2 linked regions of the Homo sapiens genome follow. The protein of the gene in region 1 interacts with the protein of each later gene in a biochemical or structural test. Each region holds a gene or a part of one and is shown on either strand. Other genes may lie near its edges.

What was found.
Region 2: the proteins of COL6A2 (region 1) and SIRPA form a complex in vitro, tested with the Homo sapiens proteins (one large-scale study listed by BioGRID).

The regions. Positions count from the first base shown.
Region 1 is NC_000021.9:46,128,803-46,132,711, reverse strand, and holds part of COL6A2 (collagen alpha-2(VI) chain isoform 2C2 precursor), read right to left. Parts: intron 3,810-3,909; coding exon of another isoform or gene 3,784-3,809; exon of another isoform or gene 3,517-3,783; coding exon of another isoform or gene 3,221-3,516; exon of another isoform or gene 2,911-3,220; intron 759-2,910; coding exon 160-758; 3' UTR 1-159. UniProt on the Homo sapiens protein: Collagen VI acts as a cell-binding protein.
Region 2 is NC_000020.11:1,919,277-1,923,085, forward strand, and holds part of SIRPA (tyrosine-protein phosphatase non-receptor type substrate 1 isoform 1 precursor), read left to right. Parts: intron 1-2,118; coding exon 2,119-2,436; intron 2,437-3,036; coding exon 3,037-3,369; intron 3,370-3,809. UniProt on the Homo sapiens protein: Immunoglobulin-like cell surface receptor for CD47. Acts as docking protein and induces translocation of PTPN6, PTPN11 and other binding partners from the cytosol to the plasma membrane.

The sequences.
Region 1 (3,909 bases):
GGCCGGGGCTACGGGGACCCCGTGGGAGGAGCTGGAGAGGTGCAGGCCCAGGGCGTCGTCCGAGTGAGCAGCGGTGCTGGCCGTGTGGGACCCGGGCCCGCTTAGCACCATGGACGGGGTGGGCTCACGACCCTCGACTGCGGGGCCCGGGCGGCGGCGCTAGCAGATCCAGCGGATGAAGCGGTCGAAGAAGCCGGGTTGCGCCAGGCTGTCATAGTCCTTCTCGTGGAACACGGCGGCGCGGTCACCCAGGCTGAGCGTGGTGAGCACGTCCATGTCCACGTCGCTGCCCAAGGCCAGCACGGTGGGTACCACGTTCTGCTTGCGCATGGAGTGCGCCGACTCGTGCAGACTGTCGTTGCCCGTGACGCCGTCCGTGAGGAACACGAAGGACAGCTCTGCGTGCCTCCGGGCCCCGCCACGCGGGCTGCGCACGATGGCATTGATGGCGTGCACCACGCCTGCGCCCACGTGCGAGAAGGAGTTCAGGTATTGTGTGGTCTCCAGCGCCTCGTGGATGGCCGTGAGGTTGTGGCTCAGCGGGAAGGCCACCTGCTGCTCGCCGGGGCCACCAAACTGCAGCAGCGCCACGCGTGCGTTGAGAGGGTCGTCGTCCCTCCGGGCCAGCGTCAGCCGCCGCGCCACCTGCTCCACGAAGCGCCGGGCCTTGTGGAAGTTCTGCTCACCCAGCCGCTCGGAGCCGTCCAGCAGGAAGACGATGTCCACGGGCCGCTGCGTGCACTGTGCCACGGACAGCTCTGTGGGGAGACGCAGGTGCGGGCTGGGCGGAGGGGAGGTGGGCAGGACCGGGCAGGTGCCAGCCCCGCACCTGTGCCCTTCCATTCGCACCCTGCCTGCAACCTCACAGACCACTGGGCTCTGCGGGGGCGTTTCTGCAGGGCAGCCCTGGGTGTGGGTCCTTAGCCCAAGACACTTTCAGGCGGCACTGCTGGGAGCCGCCATCTCCTCTGCTGGTGCTCCCAGGCCTGAGACCCTGACACAGGCCCCAGGCCCTGTCCACCTGCTGAGCACCATCCCTGCACAGGCTGCCCTCCTGGGAGGGAAGGGGCCCAAAGCATCCTTTCATGGCTCAAGAATTTGCTGCCCACAAAAGGGCCACTGTCTGTGTAGTGTGGGAGGTACTTAAGGAGGACCCTGGCTCTGACACCCCCAGCCTGACCCCTCAATCGCTGGGTCCCAGAGCTGCTCAGAACACCTAGAGCTGGCTGGGCCACGTCCCTCCCGGAAAGACCAGGAGCCCCTGACTCTTCTGATTGGCCATGGTGGGGAGCAGTGGGCACAGGGGCAGCCAGACCTTCTGTGGCAGCCCAGGTGGGTTCTGCCCTATGACTCTGTTACCAAGTGGGGCCCCCACCTGCCTGGGTGGTCACCAGCCCTGGGCATCGGGGACAGCTTGGGGGCCTGGCCATAGCCACAACCCAGGCCAGGCTGCCTACCACACGTGTGGGTGTCACGTGGGGCCAGAGACCACAGGACAGGACACGGACAGTCCTTGCGTGGACCTGGCCCTGTGGCCTCACCAAGACCTCAGCTCCTGGGATGGGGGAGGGGAGGGACAGAGCCAGTTTCCCCAAGGGTGTCTGCTTCTCAGCCCAACCCCTGGACGTCGTCACAGCTGGTACATGGACCCCCAGGAATGCACACAGAGGACCCTGACCCGAAACTCGGTTTCTGGGGGCCCTGGAGGTGCAACGGTCCAGCCCCGCAGGCAGTGAGCAAAGCTCTGAACACAGCAGGGTGACCTCACGCTGCACCGCAGCCTTCACAGAACGCTTGAGACATGGACGCCGTCTGAGCACGCACGAGCTGGCAGATGGGGTTCCCTCAGTGAGCTTATGAGTGACGCAGCTCATTCAGTGAAAGGAAGGGCAGCCTCCCTGTTAAGGCCACACCTAGGAACCGGCTTAAATGTCCAGAAACTCCTCAGGTACCGCTGGGCTTCCCAAACCCCCTCAAAACTAATAACATTTTCACTGCTGTCACCAAACATATGGAGACAGACATGCAAGGGGCAGCTGGTTTTGGGGGTCTCTGTCCATTCATCAGTGTCTGTGGGGCCTGGAGGAGACGGGGAAGCTGTGGGGGCCGGCCAGGCACAGGGAGGCTGAGGCTGTTGGGATGTCTGTGGACTCTGCTCTCCTCCTCCTGTGGAGGATCCTTCATCCCCACAGTGGGAAGACCAGCCTGGCCTGCCCTGTGCAGTGGGTGTGGGGACGAGAACCTGGCCCTGAGAAATGGTCACAGCCGTGCCCGGCAGGAGCCCAGCCTGGATGAGGGCTCCTGCAGTCAGAACGTCGGGGTCAGCTCGCCGTGGGGGCCGCTCCCTTTGGATGGTGATCCCTGCCGCTCCCCAACATTGTGGACCCTGGGATTCTCTGCTCAGTCCTCTGAGGACCGCAGAGGTTGTGCCTGGTGGATGCTCCCCCGACTGTGCTTTTGGAGACCCAGAGGTTGGGCTGGAAGGGTGCAGACACCCCGGGATCAGGGCTGCTGGCAGGCAGCTGTGGCCATTCGCCCTACTGTGCATGACACCAGCCCAGATACGTCATGGTGCCAGGACTGCCAGCTTCCCCCAGGACTATCTGCTGCCCAACCGGAAGCCTTCACCTGCCACCAGGTGGGCCGTGAGCGCCCACGAGTCACCATGCACGGGATTAGTGCCCACACCCAGCGAGGCTCACCAGCCTCTGGGGCCTGTTTCCGAGGCTCCGCTGGAACCTGGTGCTGGAACATCCTCCAGCACCTGGGCAGCACCCTCCCTCAGCCCCATCCCAGACGCACGGCAGCCCAGCTGGGCCGCTAAGTAAGGGCCTCCAAAGACTTCCACACCCAAACCCTGGAGCCTGTGAGGGTGACCTGATGCAGCAAAGAAGGACTCTGCAGACGGGAGTGAGTTAAGGGTCTTGCGAGGTCATTCTGGACTTGGGGTGGGCCTTAAATTCAATGACCAGGGTTCTTATAAAGAGAGCGGCCACAGGAAGACGGAGGAGAGACTGGAAGATGCAGCCGCAGCAAGGGACACGGTGGCCACCAGCATGGGAAGAGGCTGGGAGCTGCCCCAGAGCCCCTGGAAGGACTGTAGCCCCGCTGACCCCGATTCCAGATCTCTGGCCTCCACTGAGAGCCAGCCTGTCGGGGGCAGCCCTGGGAAGCTAGTGTGGCAGGGAGGGCCCAGCCCGGCTGGGCGGGTGCCCGGGCTTTAGCAGAGGGCCAGCGCGGTCTCGGGGTCCCCCACGATGTCCCTGTGCACCAGCTTAAAGGTGTCAATGAACAGCTCCATCCAGTCCTGCCGCTCTACCCCGGTGGCGAACTTGGCCCGCTCGGCGGTGTAGACCAGCACGGCCACCAGCTGGGAGTAGGCGGCCGGGTCCTGCGTGAGCTCCGTGGCGTTTAGCAACTGTTGGATCAGGGGAATGGTCCTGGGGAAGGTGGCGTCCGGCCCCTCTTCCGTGCGGAGGAAGGTGACCGGGGGCTCGCCGCCAGGCCACGGTGCATCTGCAAGGGAGCGTCCAGAGAAGACTGTAAGGCCTGCGGTGGGCGTCGGCCTAGAGCTCCTCCTCGGGCAGCCGCTCAGCGAGGCCAGAGTGAAGAGCGGCATTTGGGCTGGCGAGTCGGTAGAGGAAATGCAGGTGGAGCGGGTGTGTGGCTCGGCCTTGGCAGGAGGCGTGGGGGCAGTGAGCACAGGGACAGGAAGCTGGCAGGGAGCTAGGAGACCCGCACGGTGGCACCTTTGGGGGACACCACGGACCCCGAGAAAACCTTTCAGCACAAAACAGCTCCGTCCAAACCTGTGCCGGAGACAGGCCAAACTCCAGTAGGGCTTCCAGTGCCGCAGGCCCGTCGCCAGGAAGACCCCAGCCACCCCTCAAGAGCCCGCCTGAGAAAGCT
Region 2 (3,809 bases), on another chromosome or scaffold:
GGCATCTAAAGTTTTTAATTAATCCAGAAGATTCTAATACAGAGTCAGGACTGAAAACCCCTGGGATAGACACCCAGAGGTCACGGAGGACAAGTTGGAAAAGATGGTCCTCTTGGGGTGCCAGATGGGAGAACAGCTTTTCAGGGTGTGGATGCTTCTGAACAACGTGCACCCGGGACAGCTCTTTGGAGGCCCCAGTGGCCTGGCCAGACCCCCTCTTATGATACAGGCCTCGGGGGCCAAGGTAGGGGCCCCAGACAAAGCCCTGCTCAGATCCAGCCTCAGTGTGGGGAAACCTTCCATCCTGAAAATGTTTTTGTCTAAATGACCGCCGGAATCCCAGCAAATCCTTCCAATTCGGCCCCAGAACCCTCCCTGCCTCGACACACCAAGATGTCACGGAGGAGTCTGTTCCCTCCTCCTTTAAAATGCTTCCAGCTTCTGTAAATGGCTCTTCTGGAGGGAGGCGCCTGTGATCTTGTGTTTTGAAAGCCAATTCGCCAAACTTGTTTCCTGAGGGGATTGTTTAGAAAAGGGGAGAGAATCCTCACTTGGTGGTTTCTGCTCCTTGTATCATTTGGGTTTGTCATGAGCCACAGGGAGCAGGGTTTGAGCCTTTTCTTGGTGTTTCTGCTCTGCTTTGTTCTGCTGCCTGAAGGATAAATGTGTAGATTCGGAAGCAGTAATGACCAGACCTCCTGATAACAGTCACAGGGGTCATTTATTAAGCACCTGCTGCATACCAGGCTCTGTGCTTGCATTCATCCTCCCTCTTCTTAACAGGGTGGGGTTTGTATCCACTTTTGGCCCTGGGCCTCTCTGAGCTTTGTCCTAAAAGGGGCTCACACGAGGATCCCCTCACAGAGATGGAGTGAGGATTAAAGAGCTGACGGGCATGGAGGGAGCAGCCAGTGTCCAGCTCCAGAGAAGCCCTGGATAAATGGGAACTGATTGCAGCCCCTCAGCCCTGTGGGGACATCCAGGCCGCTGGCCTCAATGACTTGACTTCTTCAAGTGACACCCTCCTTACTGTGCCCTCAAAATGTTTGATGGGTGTGAGGGAGAAGTTAATATTTACAAATGCAAGTATGTGTGATATGTGCTTCCTGGTGACTGCGATAGGAGGTATGGGGTAATGATTAGCAATTTGGAGACACGTTTACGACCCATCTGCAGGGAGAAACAGCCCGCGTTCTGATTCAGCCATGTGTGTGCTTTCAGGACCCAGGAAGTGCTTCTGCCTGCTTGGGCGCCCTGTGTCTGTGTAATTAATTGATAATTAACCACTTTGGCTTTCTCCACACTTGGTGATCTTTAGTGTCTATCTAAAACTGACACCAAAGAAGACCGCAGATTCAGAAAAGTATCCCTTCCTTTCAAATTTAGCACTTGGCACAGATTAGACCCTGCTGGAATATTTGTGGAGAAAATGAAAAATATGAAGTAAATTCATAAATACCTGAAGAGAGAGCTTTGGATATGAATAAAGTCTGGGTTAAAGTTAGATCTGTTTTTGCTTATTTTTGTGAAGCATCTTCTGTGTTTATCCAAAGCAAAACTGCTTCTGTTGCCTCATTTAATCCTCGCTGCATCCCAGAAAGGAGAAATGCTGCTGTTCCATTTTACAGACAAGGAGCTGGGTGTGCCAGGCCGCCCCTCTCATGGGCTGAGCGGCCTGGTTCCAGCTCTCATGGTGATGCCACGTTGCTGCTTACTCCCTGCACTGACCTCTATAAACGCTCTCTCTGAGGTTGGCACTGTTGCCAGGGGAGGCAGGGTAGAAACAGTTAATACCAAGGATGAGATGGATCGTTAATTTTGATCCTGTGCCCAAATTGCTGGAAGTCACCCTGTGTGGAGTGGAGAAGTTTGAACTCAGGCCTGGACTTCCCTCTGGGCCCTGCCCCTACACTGTCTGACCTCACATGGGTCCTCACCTCTCCCAACCTTTGCATCCTGCTCTGTAAAATGACAATAAGGACACCGCCCTCATTAATCCTTCCACATTATTGGAAGGATAAAAAATAATGTCTCAGAAGGTTCTTAACGTGTCACACACTTATCGTTAGTGATTGTCATCTGAGTCATGTCTCCTGATTATCGATGGTCCTTTTGTAGCCAAACCCTCTGCCCCCGTGGTATCGGGCCCTGCGGCGAGGGCCACACCTCAGCACACAGTGAGCTTCACCTGCGAGTCCCACGGCTTCTCACCCAGAGACATCACCCTGAAATGGTTCAAAAATGGGAATGAGCTCTCAGACTTCCAGACCAACGTGGACCCCGTAGGAGAGAGCGTGTCCTACAGCATCCACAGCACAGCCAAGGTGGTGCTGACCCGCGAGGACGTTCACTCTCAAGTCATCTGCGAGGTGGCCCACGTCACCTTGCAGGGGGACCCTCTTCGTGGGACTGCCAACTTGTCTGAGACCATCCGAGGTAGAAGACCCTCACCCAGCCCAAGCCCACACCTGACCGCCAAGCCCACCCCCCACCACCCTCCACTCATCCAGCTCTACTCTTGCTCCAGGGCTTGAAATGCCTGGAACCTAAATTCCTAACTGCCCACCTCCCATGCCCCTAGATGTGCCAGCCACTTACTAACATTTTAATGGCAGTGGCTGGGTGACCACACCACCCACCAGGTGCCAAGGACTGTGCTAGCCGTTTCATTTATTTCACTGATAGCAAACACAGTTAATGAGTACCTACTATGAACTAAGCCTCTATGTGCTTGGTGATTTTCTTTATTTTGCTACAGTTACAACATTCCAACTGCATGCCAGGGGTGGTGCTTATAGATTTCCCTCATTCTTAGCCTAGTAGGAGCTACCAGTCCTTGAGCACCTACTGTGTGCTGGGCGTTGTGCTTAGTAATTTCATTCATATGCAAAGAGCACCCTCAATGTCTGAGCACCTGATGCCTGCCTAGCTCTGTCCTGGTGATGACCTCACCGTGGTGGGGGAGCTACGTTATGGAGCCCTCCCTGTGATCTGTCTGTGCCACAAGGTCAGAGCTTCTGCCCTGTGCTGTTTCAGTTCCACCCACCTTGGAGGTTACTCAACAGCCCGTGAGGGCAGAGAACCAGGTGAATGTCACCTGCCAGGTGAGGAAGTTCTACCCCCAGAGACTACAGCTGACCTGGTTGGAGAATGGAAACGTGTCCCGGACAGAAACGGCCTCAACCGTTACAGAGAACAAGGATGGTACCTACAACTGGATGAGCTGGCTCCTGGTGAATGTATCTGCCCACAGGGATGATGTGAAGCTCACCTGCCAGGTGGAGCATGACGGGCAGCCAGCGGTCAGCAAAAGCCATGACCTGAAGGTCTCAGCCCACCCGAAGGAGCAGGGCTCAAATACCGCCGCTGGTGAGGCCTCTATTTCAGCTGACCCAGCTTTTTTAAACTTTTAGTTTTGTGGGTTTTTTAAATGTTAAAAGTAGTAATTCATGCTTATTATAGAACAATCTAGAAGTCTATAAATATAAAGTAGAATTTTAATGTCAGCTCCATTTCCCCAAATCCCACACTCCAAGAGTCACCACTGGTAAGAGTTTGATGCACATCTTGATAGATCTTTTGACATAGATTTATATCACAGGAGGAAAGAGGGAGAGAGGGGGCCCATCTGTTCATGGTGTCCTGCCTCTTGCCTTCTTCACCTGACAGTTGTCATGCTCCCCATTCCTCACTGGCCCAGCCCCTCTTCCCTACTCTTTCTAGCCCCTGCCTCATCTCCCTGGCTGCCATTGGGAGCCTGCCCCACTGGAAGCCAGGGTGGAGTCATTCAGGGTGTTTGCAGCTTGTCT